Linked DNA regions of Homo sapiens: region 1 is linked to region 2. A link means that fine-mapping ties the variant in region 2 to the expression of a gene that starts in the linked region. Tissue or cell type: whole blood. Region 2 holds a variant in brackets; the other region holds the start of a gene. All regions are shown on one strand. Distances are from middle to middle. Region 1 holds the start of AQP11 (aquaporin 11). Region 2 has its middle 6.7 kb from the start of LINC03030.

Region 1 (10,139 bases), 26 kb after region 2:
AAATGTCATCAGGACCTTCTGAGGCTGTGTCATAGGCACGCATCCTCAACCTTGGCGAAATAAACTTTCTAAATTAACTGAGACATGTCTCAGATTTTTGGAGTACACATCTGATAAAACACAATGAGAAAAATATGGCATCACTTCTGTGATATTCCTGCTAAAGATGCATACCCTGTAAGGCTGCATTGAGCCGCGATCACGCCCCTGTACTCCAGCCTGGGCAACACAGTGAGACTCTGTCTCAAAAAAAGAAAAAAAAAAAGACACTTAACCTGAAACTAGTATCTAGGAAACATTAGGCAAACCCAAATTCAAGGAGATTTTACAAAATAACTGATCTGTAACCTCAAAATTGTCCAGGTGATGAAAGTCAAGGAAGAGCTGAGGAACTTTTCTAGATTGAAGGAAACTCATGAGACATGACACTAAATGCAATGTGCAATTCTGAATTGGATCCTTTTGCTAAGAAGTACAATGTTGCGACAACTGGCAAAACTTGAATGGGATCTGAGGAGTAGATGGTAGTAACAATGTTAATTTCCTGATTTTGATAGTCTTATTATGGCTATGTAGGACACAGATGTTTAAGAAAATACACCCTAAAATGTTCTGAGTAATTGGGCATAATATTAACAATTAATTTTCAAATGGTTCAGGAAAAAAAAATTTTGTACTATACTTGCAACTTTTCTGAAAGCCTGAGATTATTTCAAAATAAAATACTTTTAAAATGCAATTACTTAAATTCTTCCCATGTTTCTTCCCACGTAAACGTCAAGCCAAAGGACATGGCTTCAGAAGCTCTTTTTTTTTTTTTTTGAGATGGAGTCTCACCATGTTGCCCAGGCTGGAGTTTAGTGGTATAATCTTGGCTCGCTGCAACCTCCACCTCCCGGGTTCAAGCTATTCTCTTGCCTCAGCCTCCTGAGTAGCTGGGACTACAGGCATGTGCCAACACGCCTGGCTAATTTTTGTATTTTTAGTAGAGACAGGGTTTCACCATGTTGGCCAGGCTGGTCTCAAACTCCTGACCTCAGGTGATCCACCCACCTCGGCCTCCCAAAGTGCTGGGATTACAGGCGTGAGCCACCGCGCCTGGTGCAGAAGCTCTTAAATGCTTTATCTCCTCGCAGATGTTAACGAAATGCAATTCTGAATTTTGGCAGGGGTTTTTTTTTTTCTTCATTTCGCTTTGTCTTGTCTGAAGCTTCAGGGCAAAATCCATGATTATTGAACTATCGTCTATTTTACCTCCATTTTTATATATTAAACCTTATTAAGCACTACTATGTGCTGGGCCATGTACTAAATCTTTTTCAGGCATTATTTCTTTTAACCTTGATCTCTTGCTACTTCCCCCTTCATACTCCAGCCTAGAGCACGGGGACTCCTCTAGGCTTTCTCTGTTTGCAAAATGCAGTGCCTCTGCCTCTCTTCTTTCTCCCTCTTCTCTTTACCCCTTAACTCCTATTTATTCTTCAGGTTTCAGCTAGGATGACACTTCCTCCAAGGAGCCTTTCCTTAAGTCTGAGTGGGGGCCCCTCCCTGTGCCCAGGCCTTTCTTCTTTTACCATTGTACTTTTACACTATATTTTAATTTTGTTTTCTCTTCTGTTCCCTCTTCTATGCTATTCAAGAGCAAGGACTGTTTTTACTGCTGTTTTACCAAAGCTAACAGAGGTCTTCGTCCATGATGTCACTCTCAAGAGACTTTAATTGGTGATTTCTTGTTTCTGAAAATAGGAAGGTTGATTTGATGCAAAATATCCAATCAGTAGTAATTAATTATGTTAATTTTGCCCTTGTTCTTTAATTTAAAAAATGTCCAAAGTCCTTTTAATGACAATATGTATTACCACGATACTAAAATTTCTTACCAAAGTCCAAAACACTGGTTTTCTACATGACTCTTCCGGGTAAAAGTGAATTATCAGCAGAGCAGTAAATAAAATACATTCACATTAATCCTCAAGTGACTTCAAGTCTAGGGGAGCACTGAAAGGGTTACATTCATAGGATTGATTTAAAGGCAACTTCTTTAAACAGCAGTGACTTAAAAGTAATTCTAATTGCCGGGCGCGGTGGCTCACGCCTGTAATCCCAGCACTTTGGGAGGCCGAGGCGGGCAGATCACAAGGTCAGGAGATCAAGATCATCCTGGCTAACACAGTGAAACGCCATCTCTGCTAAAAAATACAAAAAAAAAAAAAAAAAAAAAAAAAAAAAAAAAAAAAAAGCCAGGTGTGGTGGCAGGCGCCTGTAGTCCCAGCTACTCGGGAGGCTGAGGCAGGAGAATGGCGTGAACCCGGGAGCAGAAGTTGCAGTGAGCTGAGATCACGCCATTACACTCCAGTCTGGGAGACAGAGCGAGACTCTGTCTTAAAAAAATAATAATAATAAATAATTCTAATTTAAATTCTTTCTGGCCAGGCAATCAACACAGGAAAGAGAAAAGGTCTTGATTTTCTACTAGTTTGTGTCTTGTGAAAGAATTTTTTTTTTTTTTAGACGAAGTCTCACTCTGTTGCTCAAACTGGAGTGCAGTGGCACTGTCTTGGCTCACTGCAACCTCCACCTCCCGGGTTCAAGGGATTCTCTTGCCTCAGCCTCCCGAGTAGCTGGGACTACATGTGCGCACCACCATGCCCAGCTAATTTTTGTATTTCTAGTAGAGACGGGGTTTCACTATGTTGGCCAGGCTGGTCTTGAACTCCTGACCTCGTTATCCGCCTGCCTCGGACTCCCAAAGTGCTGCACCTACAATGGGCCACCCCAGGGGACAAGCTGTTGGGACTGGAATGCGGTGGCAAGAGCCGTGCACTCTGGCTGCTGAAACCTGCTGTTTCCACTGTAAGCTACCACTTAGTGAATATTTTCTACGTATTGGGAACTGTACTAAGTGGCTTTCATGTTTTGTTTTTTGTTTGTTTGACTGGTTTGTTGTTGTTGTTGTTGTTGTTGTTGTTGTTTTTGAGACGGAGTTTCGCTCTTGTTGCCCAGGCTGGAGTACAATGGCGCGATCTAGGCTCACCACAACCTCTGCCTCCCGGGTTCAAGCGATTCTCCTGCATCATCCTCCCGAGTAGCTGGGATGACAGGCATGCGCCACCATGCCCGGCTAATTTTGTATTTTTAGTAGAGACGGGGGTTTCTCATGTTGGTCAGGCTAGTCTCGAACTCCCGACCTCCGGTGATCCGCCCGCCTCGGCCTCCCAAAGTGCTGGGATTATAGGCGTGAGCCACCGCGCCCAGCCGCGCCCGGTTTTTGTTGTTGTTTTTGTTTCTAAAAACAGCGTCTCGCTCTGTGGCCCAGGCAGGGGTGCAGTGGCGCGATCTCAGCTCACTGCAGCCTGGAACTCCTGGGGTCAAGCGGTCTTCCCACCTAAGCCTCTCCGTGCTGGGACTCCGGACGCGCTCCACCTCACGCAGCCGTATTCCTGCTTTCAAAGCAGATGGAAGAGGTGCGCCAGGACCCCCAGTTCTTGGAAACAGACCTCTCCAGTTACCTGTTGTTTCCTCTTCACGAAGAGTGCATGTAACAGTAAGACACAACTGTTTCATATTATACGTAAAGAGTTCATGCCAAAGGTTATAGACAGTCACATGCTAAAACTAGGCTACACTTTGAAGAATCACCGCTCAAGTTCTGGAAAAAAGAGGTGACTGTTGAACAACACTGTGAGGGTAATCGATGCCACTGAAATATACACTTAAATTGATTAAAGTGGCGAATTTTATCTGGCATATATTACCACCATTTTTAGAAATGTTTTTTGGCAGGTGAAGAAAAGCAAGGCTCCAGGAGGCCCTGCGCACCGGTCTACGCCCACTAACTCACCCGCCCCCTGCGCCGCGTCTCCCCTCTCAATTTCAGTCGCCCATTGATAAAAACGAGGTGGCTATGTGAGATGGCCTTCAGCGGTCTTTCCAGCTCCACGGTTTTACAGTGTGGAGCGGGGAAAGAAAAACTCTAAGGTCCTCGCTGCAAAGCAACCATCAGAGCTCCGCCGCGCCGTGCCGCTCCTCTCCGCCCCGTGGTCCGGGTGTCACCGCCCGCAGGGGCGCAAGGGCCGCAGCACGCGTGCGCAGTGGGCACCAAGAGCGCTGCGTCGACCGCGCCGCGCCGGCCCTCCGCCGCCGCGCCCGCCTACAAGGCCCTGAGGGAGACTGCGGAGGGTGAGTGCGCGGTGGGCTCGGCTGACCGTTGGCCCTGCGGCCGGCGCCCTAGGCTACCTCCCTTCGCCTCCCCGCGCCTCCCCGCGCCTCCCCGCCTCCCCGCCTCCCCGCCTCCTCGGCTCTGGTTCCAACACCCCAGCGCCAAGCCGGGGAGGCGGGGAGGACTTCTTAAGTGTGCCGCTCGGGAGCCTCCCGCTCGTCCCGCCCCGAGGGGCGTGAGGAGGGGAGGGGCTGCGGACTTCGGACTCGGGCCTGGAGACCGCCTCCTACCCAGAGCCGGAGCCCGCAACCCGCTCAGGCGGCGACGGAGCCATGTCGCCGCTGCTGGGGCTCCGGTCCGAGCTGCAGGACACCTGCACCTCGCTGGGACTGATGCTGTCGGTGGTGCTGCTCATGGGGCTGGCCCGCGTAGTCGCCCGGCAGCAGCTGCACAGGCCGGTGGCCCACGCCTTCGTCCTGGAGTTTCTAGCCACCTTCCAGCTCTGCTGCTGCACCCACGAGCTGCAACTGCTGAGCGAACAGCACCCCGCGCACCCCACCTGGACGCTGACGCTCGTCTACTTCTTCTCGCTTGTGCATGGCCTGACTCTGGTGGGCACGTCCAGCAACCCGTGCGGCGTGATGATGCAGATGATGCTGGGGGGCATGTCCCCCGAGACGGGTGCGGTGAGGCTATTGGCTCAGCTGGTTAGTGCCCTGTGCAGCAGGTACTGCACAAGCGCCTTGTGGAGCTTGGGTCTGACCCAGTATCACGTCAGCGAGAGGAGCTTCGCTTGCAAGAATCCCATCCGAGTCGACTTGCTCAAAGCGGTCATCACAGAGGCCGTCTGCTCCTTTCTCTTCCACAGCGCTCTGCTGCACTTCCAGGAAGTCCGAACCAAGCTTCGTATCCACCTGCTGGCTGCACTCATCACCTTTTTGGTCTATGCAGGTTTGTCATTCTCACCAAATACTTGGCACTTCCAGAGCCTCTATGACATGAGGCTGTAAGTTCTTTACTAAAATACATTTGAAACCGTCTATCCCGCTATGATGTAAATGCTGGTATCCCCGTTATTCTAACCATTTTGCAGCCCGTTCTTAACCAGTAGGGCCGACACGTAGAGCCTTCATGCAGTGCTGCTTTGAACACCCAGAGAAAGGAGCCACCTCTGTGCTGAAACTGAGATACTGTGAGATATTGCCAAGGGTTCAGATATCCTACAAAGGGATTGTTTTAATGGTAGAAAGGAAAGATAACTTATTAACTGCCTCTTTCTTCATGCCAAGGTGGTATAGATCGTTTCGGATACTCTTACTGAAAAATGATCCTGGCTTTACAAAGTTCCTTTCGATTTAAAGCACAAGGCACATGATTGGTTAGTATAAGAGCGGAGGGTAGAAATTTTGTAGTTCCATTTTAGTCCTATAAATGATTTAAAGTCATTTCTTATTTCCTTAATAATTCATTTTGAGTTATGAAATTTCTTATTTCCTTAATAATTCATTTTGAGTTATACATGAACTTTTAAGTGACCTATTAAGAAAAATGTTTAAATGATAACTTGCTTCAAATTAAAGATGCTTTTTAAAATATAACTCTTGAGAAATCTGTTGATTTCTTTTAAACCATTTGTTTACTTTGACAGATCTCAGATGCAGTGGGCAATCTAGTCCTAAGTGGGAGGAGGAAATCCAAAACACAAGTATTTAATGATGAAATGTGTCATTTTAAATGATTACAACAGAATATCTTTATTGGGACTACATCTAAATTATAAAAGACTGTGGAGGCAGAAATAACAACAAAGGAAATTTGTGGTAATAATCTTCTGCCCATTAAAAGTGAAACAATGACTAGAAGCAAACTTCAAGATAAGGACTCCTAAACACGTACTTGACCTTCTAGGGTAAAAATGAAAGCCTTCAGCCGGGCGCGGTGGCTCACGCCTGTAATCCCAGCACTTTGGGAGACCGAGGTGGGTGGATCACCTGAGGTCAGGAGTTTGAGACCAGCCTCGCCAACATGGTGAAACCCCGTCTCTACTAAAAATACAAAAAAAATTTAGCCAGGCATGGTGGTGGGCGCCTGTAATCTCAGCTACTCGGGAATCTGAGGCGGGAGAATTGCTGGAACCCGGGAGGCGGAGGTTGCAGTGAGCTGAGATCGCGCCATTTTACTCCAGCCCAGGCGACAACAGTGAGACTCTGTCTCAAAAAAAAGAAAGAAAGCAAGCCTTCCCAATCAATTTCCCCTTCTTTAGGTCTAGTACCACTTTTTAAGTAGACATAAATGGAAATAAGTGGTATAGAAGAGTGAAGGGGGCCGGGCACGGTGGCTCACACCTGTCATCCCAACACTTTGGGAGGCCAAGGCAGGTGGATCGCTTGAGCCCAGGCGTTCGAGACTAGCCTGGGCAACATAAGAGAAATCCCATCTCTCCAAAAAATACAAAAATTAGCCGGGCGTGCTGGTGCGCACTTGTAGTCCCAACTACTTGGGAGGCTAAGGTGGGAGGATCACCCAAGTCCAGGAGGTTGAGATTGTGGTGAGCTGTGATAGTGCCACTGCACTCCAGCCTGGGTTATAGAGACCCTGTCTGTCTCAAAAGAAAAAAAAAAAGAAAAAGAGAAAAAGAGTGACAAGTACAGGCATATTTGAGGGATTGGTGGGTAGTTGCTTATTTATTGAAGTTTTAGATTTTAGCTAAAGCAGAAACATCCCCTGTATATGAACAGAATTGTCACTGCAAAAAGAGTTATGCTATGGTTTAGCTCTTTATTTCTACAATTAAAAGCAGTAAAAACTTAAAAAAGAATTTTTACATCAATAGAACATTAACTACAGTTGGATTTTTCAATACCTATGTTCCTCTTCCCTCTCTTGATTAACCTGAAGTTGATATTCTTTCTGTCTACTTTTAATACATATTTATGATTCCATAGATAATACTGTATATATTAGCCATTCCCTATTTTATCAGTGACAAAAAATTTGAGAGAAGAGACACAGATAATACTTGGAGTTATAGATCCAGTCATAGATATAAGGAAAGTTATTAGAAGTATCTATAAAATATCAACAGATCAAAAACACTGCCCTTTTTTTCTTGAAATGAGGGTACTAATTGATGGGGGAGAGGGAGAGTATAAAGGGAACACTAGAGCAGTGTTTCTCTCTGTATTAAAATCACCTGGGGAGCTCTTTAAACGTCCTTGTTCTGGGCCCACAGATTAAAATCCAATTGCTCTGGCAAGGGGCCTAGGCAGCGGTGTATTGTAAAGCTTCACAGGTGATCCCATTATGAAACCAAGGTAAAGAAGCACTGCTTTAGGAGTCTAGACCTGCACTGTGCAATTCAGTAGCCACTAGCTGCATGTGGCTGTTTACACTTAAATTAACTGAAATTAGATTCAGAGTAGCCACATTTCAAGTGGTCAGTTGTCAAATTGTGCTGTAGCTAGTGGGTACAGGATTGGACAGTGCTAGAGTCTGTTTGCATGGGTAGAACAAAATAGACAATTGTTGATTACTATTAGTTACAGAAATTTATAATGCAGTATGATCTTCCCTTTGTTTGTTTTCTGCCAATATAAGGGAGATAAGAATATTCAGTTGTCAGCTGTTATAGGCCAAGCATTTTGCAAGGAAATTTATGAGAGTTATCTTAATTAATTCTTACAACAACCCATCGGCCGGGCGCGGTGGCTCACGCCTGTAATCCCAGCACTTTGGGAGGCCGAGGCGGGCAGATCACGAGGTCAGGTGATCGAGACTATCCTGGCTAACACGGTGAAACCCCGTCTCTACTAAAAAATACAAAAAAATTAGCCAGGCATGGTGGCGGGTGCCTGTAGTCCCAGCTACTGGGGAGGCTGAGGCAGGAGAATGGCATGAACCCGGGAGGCAGAGCTTGCAGTGAGCCGAGATCGAGTCATTGCACTCCAGCCTGGGAGACAGAGCGAGAGAGCGAGACTCCGTCTCAAAAAAAAACAAAAACAAAAAAAAACAACCCATCGATGAATATATTCTTCCCATTTTAAGTAAAGTAAGTGAGGCCCAGAAAAGTGAAATGACTTATCTAAGCTTACATAACTAGACTGTGTTAGAACTATGGTTCCAACTGGCACTAAAGCTCATACGGATTCATTATCAGCATTTCCACAGTGTGCTCCTCAAAAGTTAACAAAACTATACACAATTGAATATATTCAGCCATAAAAAGGAATGAAGTTATGATGTATACTACAACATGAATGAACCTCAAAAACAATATGCCAAGCAAAATAAGCCAGACACAAAAAGACAAATACTGTATGGCTCTACATATACAAAATATCTAGATTAGGCAACTTCATAGAGACAGAAAGTAGAATAGAGTTACCAGGGACTGTGGGGAGGAGGGAGGAATGGGGACTTATTGTTTAATGGGTACAAAGTTTCTGTTTATGTTATGAAAACCTTTGGAAATGGTGCTGCTGGTGAAACAGCATGGTGAATGTAACACCAATGACTTATACACTTAAAAATGGCTAAAATGGCATACTTTATGGTATATATATATTTCACCATAATTTATACAATTTTTAAGTTACAAAATGATGTTGTTGCCAAATAAATTTGGCAGACACTGGATTAAACAGGTTTTCTAATTTTAAGACTTCATAGAGCCTTTACTATGCTTCTAAGTATTGTGAAACTCCAAGAGGAGGATTTGGAGCACAGTTTTTCAAACTTACGAGATCCTCTTGTCTAGGAGTGTGTAGCAGAAGAGAACATACTTTGGGAAATGCTGCACTAAGTCCCATCTCTCCCTTTTATTTTCTATGGCTATAAGTCATAACTTTGGAACAGAGTTGTTACAAATAGGACTGTCTTGGGACAGTTGGCTAAGTCAGGCATCATTACAAGTTATTATGATATGTCTTTTTTAAGCTTCTAGGATACTACAAGTACAGATTTGACAAAGGTGCACCTTGGGAGATTTCTTTAATCACTTGCATTTTGAGGGCACTGAGAAGTCACCAATACAGGGTACATCAAAATAACTTATGTATTTTAGGATTACAGAACATAAGCATCCAGCAACATAGCCACAGGCTCCTAAGGATAGCCAGTGACCAAGTGTCTGTGTATTTATTGATTTAGCACCCCAAATTTTGATGGCACATGGAGCCCCAGTTATGTCATTGCCATTTATCGTGTATTAACTGGCTCCCCTAATCGTGTAAAAAAAAAAAAAGCTGTGCGATTTATTAACATATTAGAGCTATAAACTGTTAATCAGATTTCAAGCAAATCTTCCTTACTTTGGGTTCTGGAAGAATTTAGTTCAATGAACAGTTTGAGAGAGAGCTGCATTCATTTTTTATGCATAATTAGATATTGAAAAACACCTGGGCCGGGTGTGGTGGCTCACGCCTGTAATCTCAGCACTTTGGGAGGCCGAAGTGGGTGGATCACCTGAGGTCAGGAGTTTGAGACCAGCCTGACCAACATGGAGAAACCCCACCTCTACTAAAAATACAAAATTAGCTGGGCATGCTTGCGCATGCCTGTAATCCCAGCTACTCAGGAGGCAGAGACAGGAGAATCGCTTGAACCTGGGAGGCAGAGGTTGCAGTGAGCTGAGGTCGTGCCATTGCACTCCAGCCTGGGCAACAAGAGCAAAACTCCATCTCAAAAAAAGAAAAAAAGAAAGAAAAACATCTGTTATTTTACACGTCAGTTGTCTTTATTACCACATACTGCTCATTTCTTTCATAGAATTTTAAATTATATTGTTTTCTGACACAATGCCTGTTTTCCTCTACCAGATGACAAGCTTTGAGTCTGTAGACCACATTTGTTTTATTTGTCATAACATATATCAAGATCTTAGCATAGGACCTGGTACAAAGTAAATGTATTTTTAGAATAAGTGAACGAACTAGCAAATAGTCTGTTTACTCTAAAAAACTGTACAGGAAGAAATAATATG
Region 2 (10,139 bases):
TTTTGTATTTTCAGTAGAGATGGGGTTTCACTGTGGTCTCGATCTCCTGACCTCATGATCCGCCCGCCTCGGCCTCCCAAAGTGGATTACAGGTGTGAGCCACTGTGCCCAGCAAGTAGGCATTTTAAATGACATCCATGTGAGTCTGAGGCAGTGGTCTGTGGCTCCTTTTGAAAAACACTGCTGTAGGGGAACAGATAAGCCTAAGAATAAGTTTACTAGAACAGGGATGCCCTAACAGAGTTTCTTAATCTTGGCACTAATAGCATTTGGGACCAAATCAATTCTTTGTCCTGGGTGCTGTCCTGTGCACTGCAGGATGTTTCATAGGATCCCTGGCCTCTGCTTGCTAGATGCCAGTAGCAATGCCCGCTCCCACCTGCTGTGACAATCAAAACTGTCTACAGACAATGCCAAATGCCCCAAGGGGTGGTGGGGTGGAGGGGGGTGCAAACTTGCTGCCACCACCTTCCACAGAAAACTATTTCCCTGGAGTGTGCAAGGCCCTGGGCCAGTGTGTGTGGGTGTGTGTACGGGTGGGGGGAATGTTAATATTAACAATATGTTTTAAAATGTATTGCAAAACTCATGAGCTCATGTGAGCTATGGTGATTTACTGATGAAGATTTAGAATGAGTATAGAAGAGGTATTCAGGTATTTGTTGTCAAGTCAGTGCGCATGAAGATTCTTTGTAGTGTCCAGGTGCCGTGTCTTTCTGTTCTGGTTTGAGAACCACCTTTTTATGTTCTTTATTTTCAAATGCACCATTCCTTGCTGGTTTCATGGCTCCTACTCCTGAAGAAGGTAGCAATGCTGTTATTACTCACAATGCCATGACTGCTTGGAACCTGTTTGTATTGAAGCAATATAGACCTTTTGGCTTCTGCTGATCCTCAAAACCTTTAACTCATGACACTGAATCATCCACCATAAGCACGTGGCTCCAGTGGCTCTGTTATAAAGATTGTTATCATGCTTCATTGATGACTAACACAAATGCACGTCTTATCCAGAGTCTGAATGGAAATGATAACTACTTTTCTGGTAATGTTAAATTATCATTTCAGATTTTTTTTTTTTTTTGAGACAGAGTTTCACTCTTGTTGCCCAGGCTGGAGTGCGATGGTGCGATCTCGGCTCACTGCAACCTCTGCCTCCCAGGTTCAAGCAATTCTCCTGCCTCAACCTCCCGAGTAGCTGGGATTACAGGCATGCACCACCACGCCTGGCTAATTTTGTATTTTTAGTAGAGACAAGGTTTCTCCATGTTGGTCAGGCTTGTCTCGAACTCCTGACCTCAGGTGATCCCCCCGCCTGGGCCTCCCAAAGTTCTGGGATTACAGGCATGAGCCACCATGCCCAGCCTATCATTTCAGATTTTATGGCACAACCACATGACTCACCTTCCAACTATGTCTTCTCTTGAACTCATTAGGGTGTTATCATTGCATTTCCTTGAATGTAATCTTCCTCAGTATCAGTGGAACCCTTCCCTTTCATCAGCAGGCAGAATAGATGAGTGGCCCATCTGCACAAGAGTGCTCTGGATAGGAGGTGTCACAGTGTACACAGGCAAGAGTCAGTGGACAGGCCCACACATGCAGCCCAAGCCAAAAGGTCAGTAGTAGAGAAGGAGCAGAAATTCCAAGATATGTGAGGGGGAAGATCAACAAAGTGCTAAGGTATAGCAGCTCAGTGTCTGCTTGTGACAGTCAACCGAAATCTGCATCGGCACCATCCTAATGGTCCAACTTCACATGAGCCAGTAAAATAATATTGTGCTAGCCAGCAGGAGTGATCTGCCCCACAGGCTGTCCTTTTGGAAATGTGGCCTGGCCACTGGGCTCTGAGACCATTCCATAGGCACACGTTCTACAGCTCCTCAGGACATCTGTTTGACCCCATGCACTAGGAAGAAGGTTAGAGAGCACTTGAAGGGGAGAAACTGAGTTTAGAGCACCCCACCTGGAGAACACTACTAGCCCCAGCCTGTCCCAGTCAAAAGAGAGAAACTTAAAATTTCAAGGTGGGTACTCCACAGCGGGATGGAGGGTGACAGGGCCCTGTCTGCCCAGGGCCAAGGGTGGTAGTACTGCACTAGAGCAATGGTGAGTAAGTCAGTAGCTTCTTAAAGTGTTCTTTCATGGGAGGGCAAGGTTCACTTGGTGGAGCATTGGGACTTCAGTACTGGATTATTCCTGGGATGTTAATTATTAATGTTATATATGTTAGCTGGTGGTAAAACATGTAAGATAAAGCTAGAGAAATTATTTTTTTAATTTTTAATTTTTATGGGTACATAGTAAGTGTATACATTTATGGAGTGTATGGGATATTTTGATACAGGCATACAATGTGTAGTAACCACATCAGGATAAATTGGTATCCATCACCTCAAGCATTCATCCTTTCTTTGTGTTACAAACATTCCAACTGTACTCCCTCAGTTATTCTAAAATATACGACAAATTATTGCTGACTGCAGTCACCCTGTTGTGCTATCAAACACTAGATCTTATTCATTGTATCTAACTATATTTTTATATATGTTACCCATCCCCATTTCTCACCCACTGGCCTTCTCAGTCTCTGGTAACCATCACTCTACACTCTCTGTGAGTTCAATGGTTTTAACTTTTAGCTCCCACAAATGAGTAAGAACATGAGAAGTTTGTCTTTCTGTGCCTGGCTTATTTCACTTAATATAATGTCCTCCAGTTCCATCCATGTTGTTGCAAATGACAGGATCTCATTCTCTTTTATGGGTGAATAGTACTCCATTGTGTATATATACTACATTTTCTTTATCCATTCATCTGTTGATGGACATTGAGGTTGCTTCCAAATCTTGGCTATTGTGAATAGTGCTGCAGTAAACAAGGGAGTGCAGATATGTCTTCAACATACTGATTTCCTTTGAGTATATACCTAGCAATGGGATTCTTGGATCATATGGTAGCTCCATGTTTAGTTTTTTGAGGAAATTCTATACTGTTCTCCATAGGGGTTAAACTAATATGTACTCCCATCAACAGTGTATGAGGGTTCCCCTTTCTCCACATCTGTGCCAGTGTTTGTTATTGACTATCTTTTGGATAAAATCAATTTTAACTAGGGTGAGATGATATCTCATTGTAGTTTTCATTTGCATTTCACCTTTTTAAATACCTGTTTCCCATTTGTATGTTTTCTTTTGAGAAAAGTCTATTCAGATCTTTTATCCATTTTTTAATCAGATTATTATATCTTTCCCTTTGAGTTGTTTGAGCTCCTTATATATTCTGGTTATTCATATCGTGTCAGATGGATAGTTTGCAAATATCTTCTTTCATTCTGTGGGTTTCCTCTTTACTCTGTTGATTGTTTCCTTTGCTGTGTAGAAGCTTTTTAACTTGATGTGATCCCATTTGTCCATTTTTGTTTGGTAGCCTGTGTTTATGAGCTATTACTCAAGAAATCCTTACCCAATAGCTACAAATAAAAGACATATATGACAGACCCACAAAATACCCCTGGAAAGTTTCCCCAATGTTCTATTTTAGTAGTTTCATAGTTTCAGTTCTTAGATTTAAGTCTTTAATCCACTTCAATTTTATTTTTGTATATGGTGAGAGATAGGAGTCCAGTTTCATTCTTTTGCATATGGATATCCAGTTTTCCCACCATCATTAATTGAAGAGACTGTCCTTTCCCCAAGGTATGTTGTTGGCATCTTTGTCAAAAATGTTCACTGTAGTTATATGGATTTGTTTATGAGTTCTCTATTCTGTTTCACTGGTCTATGTGTCTGGTTTTATGCCAGCACCATACTGTTTTGGTTACTATTGCTCTGTAGTATAATTTGAAGTCAGGTAATGTGATGCCTCCAGTTTTGTACTTTTTGCTCAGGATGGATTTAGCTATTCTGGGTCTTTTGCAGTTCCATATATATTTTAGGATTACATTTCTGTGAAGAATGTCACTTATATTTTGATAGGGATTGCACTGAATCTGTAGAGTGCTTAGAGTAATATAGACATTTTAATAATATTGATTCTTCTAATTCATGAACAGGGAATATCTTTTCACTTTTTGGGTGTCCTCTTCAATTCTTGTATCAGTGTTTCATAGTTTTCATTGTAGAGATATTTCACTTATTTGGCTAAGTTTATTCCTTGATATTTTATTTGTAGCTATTATAAATAAGATTACTTTATTTCTTTTTCAGATTGTTCACTGTTGGAATATAGAAATGCTACTGATTTTTGTATGTTGATTTTGTGTTCTGCAACTTTACTGAATTTGTTTGTCAGTTCTAGTAGTTTTATGGTGGAGTCTTTAGGTTTTTCCAAATATAAGCTCTTATCATTTGCAAACAAGGACAATTTGACTTCTTTCTTTTCAATTTGGATGCTTTTTATTTCTTTCTCTAGTCTGATTGCTCAGTACTATGTTGAATAGCAGTGGTGAAAGGGGACTTCCTTGTCTTGTTCCAGAACTTAGAGAAAATGCTTTCAGTTTTTCCCCATTCAGTGTGATACCAGCTGTGGGTCTGTCATATATAGCTTTTATTGTGTTGAGGCATGTTCCTTCTACACCCAGTTTGCTGAGGATTTTTATCATGAAAGGATGTTGAATTTTA[C/T]CAAATGCTTTTTTGGCAGCAATTGAAATGATCACATGATTTTTGTCCCTCATTCTGTTGATATGATGTATTACATTGATTAAGTTGAACCATCTTTGTATCCCTGGGATGAATTCCACTTGGTCATGATAAATGATCTTATTAATGTGTTGTTAAATTCAGTTTGCCAATATTTTGTTAAGATTTTTGCATCAATGTTCACCAGAGATACTGGCCCTTAGTTTTCTTTTTTTGATGTGTCTTTGTGTGGTTTTGGTATCAGGGTAATACTTGTCTTATAGAATGAGTTTGGAAAAGTATTCCTGCCTCCTCTATTTTTTGGAATAACTTAAGTTGGACTGTTATTAGTTTTTCTTTAAATGTTTGGTAGAATTCAGCAGCGAAGCCATTGGGCTCTGAGCATTACTTTGCTGGGAGACTTTTATTACACCTTTAATCCCATTATTTGTTACTGGTCTAGTCAGGATTTGTATTTCTTCATGGTTCGATCTTGGTAAGTTGTAGGTGTCTAGGAATTTATCCATTTCTTCTAGGTTTTTCCAATTTATTGGCATACAGTTGTTCATAGTAGTCTATAACGAAGTTTGAATTTCTGTGGTATCAGTTGTAATGTCTTCCTTTTCATCTCTGATTTTATTCATTTGGAACTTCTTTTTTTCTTAGTCTGGCTAAAGGTTTGTCACTTTTGTTTATCATTTCAAAAATGCAACTTTTCGGCCAGGCGCAGTGGCTCACGCCTGTAATCCCAGCACTTTGGGAGGCCAAGGTGGGTGGATTATGAGGTCAGGAGTTCAAAACCAGCCTGACCAATATGGTGAAACCCTGTGTCTACTAAAAGTACAAAAAAAAAGAAAAAGAAAAATTAGCCAGGCGTGGTGGCAGGTGCCTGTAATCTTAGCTACTCGGGAGGCTGAGGTAGGAGAATTGCTTGAACCCAAGAGGCAGAGGTTGCAATAAGCCGAGATCGCACCACTACACTCCAGCCTGGGCAACAGTGCAAGACTCAGTCTCAAAAAAAAAAAAAAAGCAGCTTTTCATTTTGTTGATCTTTTGTATTGTTTTCTTCATTTCAAATGCATTTATTTCTGCTCTGATCTTTATTATTTCTTTTCTTCTAATTTTGGGTTTGATTTACTCTTGCTTTTCTAGCTCGCTGTCTCTCTCTCTCTCTCTCTTTCCCTCTCTCTCTCTTTTGTATTTTCTATATAGATGGGGTTTTGACATGTTGCCCAGGCTGGTCTTGAACTCCTGGGCTCAAGCAATCTGCCCACTTCAACCTCCCAAAGTGCGGGCCACAGGTGTGAGCCACCAAGCTGGCCTTCTAGGTCTTTAAGATGCATCATTAGGATGTTTGTTTGATGTTTTTTTTTTAAATGTAGGTGCTTATTGTTATAAACTTTCCTCTTCATACTGCTTTTGTTGTATCCCATAGGTTTTGGCATGTTGTGTTTCCATTTTCATTTGTTGCAAGACATTTTAAAAATTCTTTTTTAATTTCTTCATTGACCCATGATCACTCAGGAGCATATTGTTTAATTTCCATATGTTTGTATAGTTTTCAAAAATCCTTTTATTATTGATTTTTGGCTGTATTCCATTGTAGTAAGAGAAGATACCTGATATAATTTATTTTTTTTCAATTATTTTTCAATTTTTTCTTTTTCTTTTTTTTTTTTTTGAGATGGAGTTTCACTCTTGTTGTCCAGGCTGGAGTGCAATGGTGCGATCTCGGCTCACCACAACCTCCGTCTCCTGGGTTCAAGCGCTTATCCTGACTCAGCCTTCCAAGTAGCTGGGATTACTGGCATGCGCCTACACACCCAGCTCATTTTATTTGTATTTTTAGTAGAGTCAGGGTTTCTCCATGTTGGTCAGGCTGGTCTCGAATTCCCAACTTCAGGTGATCTGCCCGCCTCGGCCTCCCAGAGTGCTGGGAATACAGGCGTGAGCCACCAAGTCTGGCTTTTTTTTTCAATTTTTAAAGTCTTATTTTGTGGTCTAACATATAGTCTATCCTCAAAAGTGATGTAAGTGCTGAGGAGAAGAATGCGTATTCTGTAGCTGTTGGATGAAATGTTCTGTAAATATCTATTAGGTCCATTTGGTCTATAGTGCAAACGAAGTCTGATGTTTCTTTTTTGATTTTCTGTCTGGATGATCTGTCCAATGTTGCAAATGTGGTGTAGAAGGCTCCAGCTATTATTGCATTGGGGTCTCTCTCTCTCTTTAGCTCTAATAATATGTGCTTTATATGTCTGGGTGCTCCTGTGTTGAGTGCATATATTTTTATAACTGTTATTATCTTGCTAAATTGACCCCTTTATCATTTTACAATAATATTCTTTGTCTTTTTAAAATAGGTTTTGTCCTGAAATGTATTTTGTCTTAAAAAAATATAGCTACTCCTGCCCTTTCTTTTTCCATCCATTTATTTTCAGTGTTTATGTGTCTTCATAGGAGAAGTATATTTCTTGCAGGCAGTAGATCATTGGGTCTTGTTTTTTTAATCCATTCAGCCACTCTGTGTCTTTTGATTGAAGTTTAGTCCATTTATATTCAATGTTATTATTGATAAGAACTTATTACTGCCTTTTATTTGTTTTCTGGTTGTTTTGTAGTCTTCACCTCCTTCTTTCCTTTCTTCCTGTCTTCCTTGTAGTGAAGGTGATTTTCTCTGGTGGTATGTTTTAAATTCTTGCTTTTTATTTTTCATGTATCTGTTGTATGTTTTTCAATTTGAGGTTACCATACAGCTTGCAGATAATATCTTACAACCCATATTTTAAGCTGATGACAACTTAACACTGGTTGCATAAACAAATGAACAAACATGCAATAAGAAAACTTATAAAAACTCTACATTTTAACTTCATCTGCTTGCTTTTTACCTTTTTGCTTTTTCTATTTATATCTTATTATATTGTCTGTATCTTGGAAAGTTGTTGTACTTCTTATTTTTGACAGGTTCATTTTTTGCGAGGGAGGCTTCCAGTGAAAACAAGAAAGCCTGCTGGACAAATTCTAAAAAAGCTGTAACACTGACAGGTTCGTCTTTTAGTCTTTCTACTGCAGATACGAGCAGTTTACATACCAAAATTACAGTGTTATAATATTCTGTGCTTTTCTGTGTACTTACTATTACCAGTGAGTTTTATATCTTCAGATGACTTCTTATTGCTCATTAGCATTCTTTTCTTTCAGATTGAAGAACTCTCGTTTGCATTTCTGGTAGGACAGGTCTGGTGTTGATGAACTCCCTCAGCTTTTGTTTGTCTGGGGAATTCGTTGTTTCTCCTTTATGTTTGAAGGATATTTTCACTGGATATACTATTCTAGTATTAAAGTTTTTTTCCTTCAGCACTGTAAATTTGTCCCACCACTCTCTCCTGGCCTTTAAGATTTCCACTGAAAAGTCTGCTCCTGGGCATATTAGAGCTCCATTGTATGTAATTTGTTTCTTTTCCCCTTGCTGCTTTTAGGGTCCTTTCTTTACCCTTGACCTTTGGGAGTTTGGTTATTAAGTGTCTCAAGGTACTTTTATTTGGGCTAAATCTGCTTGGTGTTCTACAACCTTCTTGTACTTAAATATTGATATCCTTTTCTAGGTTTGGAAAACTATCTGTTACCTCTTTATATAAACTTTCTACCCAGATCTATAAGGCCAATAACTCTTAGATTTCCCCCTTTGAGGCTATTTTCTAGATCTTGCAGTCATGCTTCCTTCTTCTTAATTCTTTTTTGTCTCCTCTGGCTGTGTATTTTCAAACAGCCTGTCTTGAAACTCACTAATTCTTTCTTCTGCTTGATCAGTTTTGCTAAGAGACAGCCGGGACTGGTGGCTGGTGCTTTATTTAGATCATTCGGTGAGGTCATGTTTTCCAGGATGGTCTTGATGCTTGTGGATGTTCATCGGTGTCTGGGCATTGAAGAATTAGGTATTTATTATAGTCTTCACAGTCTGGGCTTGTTTGTACCTGTCCTTCTTGGGAAGGATTTCCAGCCATTCGAAGGGACTTGGATGCTGTGATTTAAGTTTTTTATCACTGCAGCCGTATCTGCACTAGGGGAAACCCCAAGTCCAGTAATGTTGTGGCTCTTGCAGACTCAGAAGTAGTGCCTTAGTGGTCTTGGGTAAGATTTAGGAGAATTCCCTGGATTACCAGGTAGAGACTCTTGTTCTCATCCTTTACTTTCCCCCACAAATGAAGTCTCTCTCTCTCTGTACTGAACTTCCTGGAGCTGGGAGAGGGGTGACATAAGTTCCCCTGTGGTCACCACCACTGGGACTGTCCTGGGTCAGACCTGAAACAAACATAGCACTGGGTTTCACCCAAGGTCCACAGTGACCGTTGCTTGACTACCACTTAGGTTCACTCAAGACCCAAGAGATCTACAATCAGCAGGTGGCAAATACAGCAGGCTTGTGTCCTTCCTTTTAGGGTGGTAAGGTCCCCCTGGCCCTGGGTGTGTCCAAAGATGCCACTGGGAGCCAGAGTCTGGAGCCAGGAACCTTAGAAATCTTATCTACTGCTGCTGAGCTGGCATCCAAGCCACAAAACAAAGTCCTTCCCCCTCTTCCCTCCCCTTTCCACAAACAGGAGTCTCTCTTCATGGCTACTGCTGCCCTGAGCCCGTGGCAAGTACTGCCAGGCTACCACCAATGTTCACTCAACGTCCAAGGGCTCTTCAATCAGCTTGCGGTGAATGCTGTGAGGCCCGGGACTCACCCTTCAGGGAAAAGGACTCCCCTCTGGCCCAGGGCAGGTCCAGAAATGCCATCCATGAGCCAAGACCTGGAACTGGGGACACCAAGAGCCTGCTTGGTGCTCTATCCCACTGTGGCTGAGCTGGTACCCAAGCTATAAGACAAAATGCCCTTTACTCCTCCGTCTTCTTTCTTCAAGTAGCCACCACAGCTAGGAATGTGCTGGGTCACATCTAAAGGCAACACAGCTCTGAGTTTTACCCAAGGCCCAGGAGGAATAATGCCTGGTTACCACCGCTGATTATTCCTTCCCTTTAAGGCAGTTGGTTCCCTTCTGGCCCAGGGTGTGTCTTGAAATGTCATGTGATGGCTAGACCCTGGAATGGGGTCCTCAGGACTCTGTCTGGTGCCCTATCCTGCTGTGGCTGAGCAGGTATCCAAGCTGCAAGACAAAGTCCTCTTTACTCTCCCTTCTCTCCTCAGGTAGAGGGAAGGAGTCTCTCCCAGAGCTGTGAACTGCACTGCCTGAGGTTGGGAGAGGGATGATGCAAGCACTGCCTTGGCCTCCCTGGCTCCATGTACATGTTACATGTACCTGAGTACGAGTACCCTGGCTCCAAGCCCAGCACAGCACCAGGACTTGCCCAGCAATTGCAATCCTTAGGGCCTAGACTGCCTTTCAAGTTTACTTAGGACCCCAGAGCCCTTTACCAAATGGTGGTGGCTTGCCAGAGGTCAAGTTCTGACCACTGGGATGGGTAATATGCCTCTGGCTAGGGCTGATGCAAATGCTCCCTCCTTGGCCTCCAGCT

Evidence for each region. PIP is the estimated chance that this variant, and not a neighbour inherited with it, causes the effect.
Region 1: AQP11 starts here. The variant in region 2 is fine-mapped to the expression of AQP11 in whole blood (INTERVAL, PIP 0.92).

The regions. Positions count from the first base shown.
Region 1 is chr11:77,585,502-77,595,640 of GRCh38, forward strand. It overlaps AQP11 (aquaporin 11), which reads left to right and starts at 4,452. Exons shown (of 3, transcript NM_173039.3): 1 at 4,452-5,110. The coding sequence starts at 4,492. RefSeq lists silencers at 3,799-4,428, 8,710-8,910.
Region 2 is chr11:77,559,332-77,569,470 of GRCh38, forward strand. It overlaps the pseudogene RNU7-59P. Among named protein-coding and RNA genes, the nearest start is that of LINC03030, 6.7 kb to the right of the region's middle. RefSeq lists enhancers at 562-1,761, 793-1,087. The variant C/T (reference allele first, on the strand shown) is at 4,623.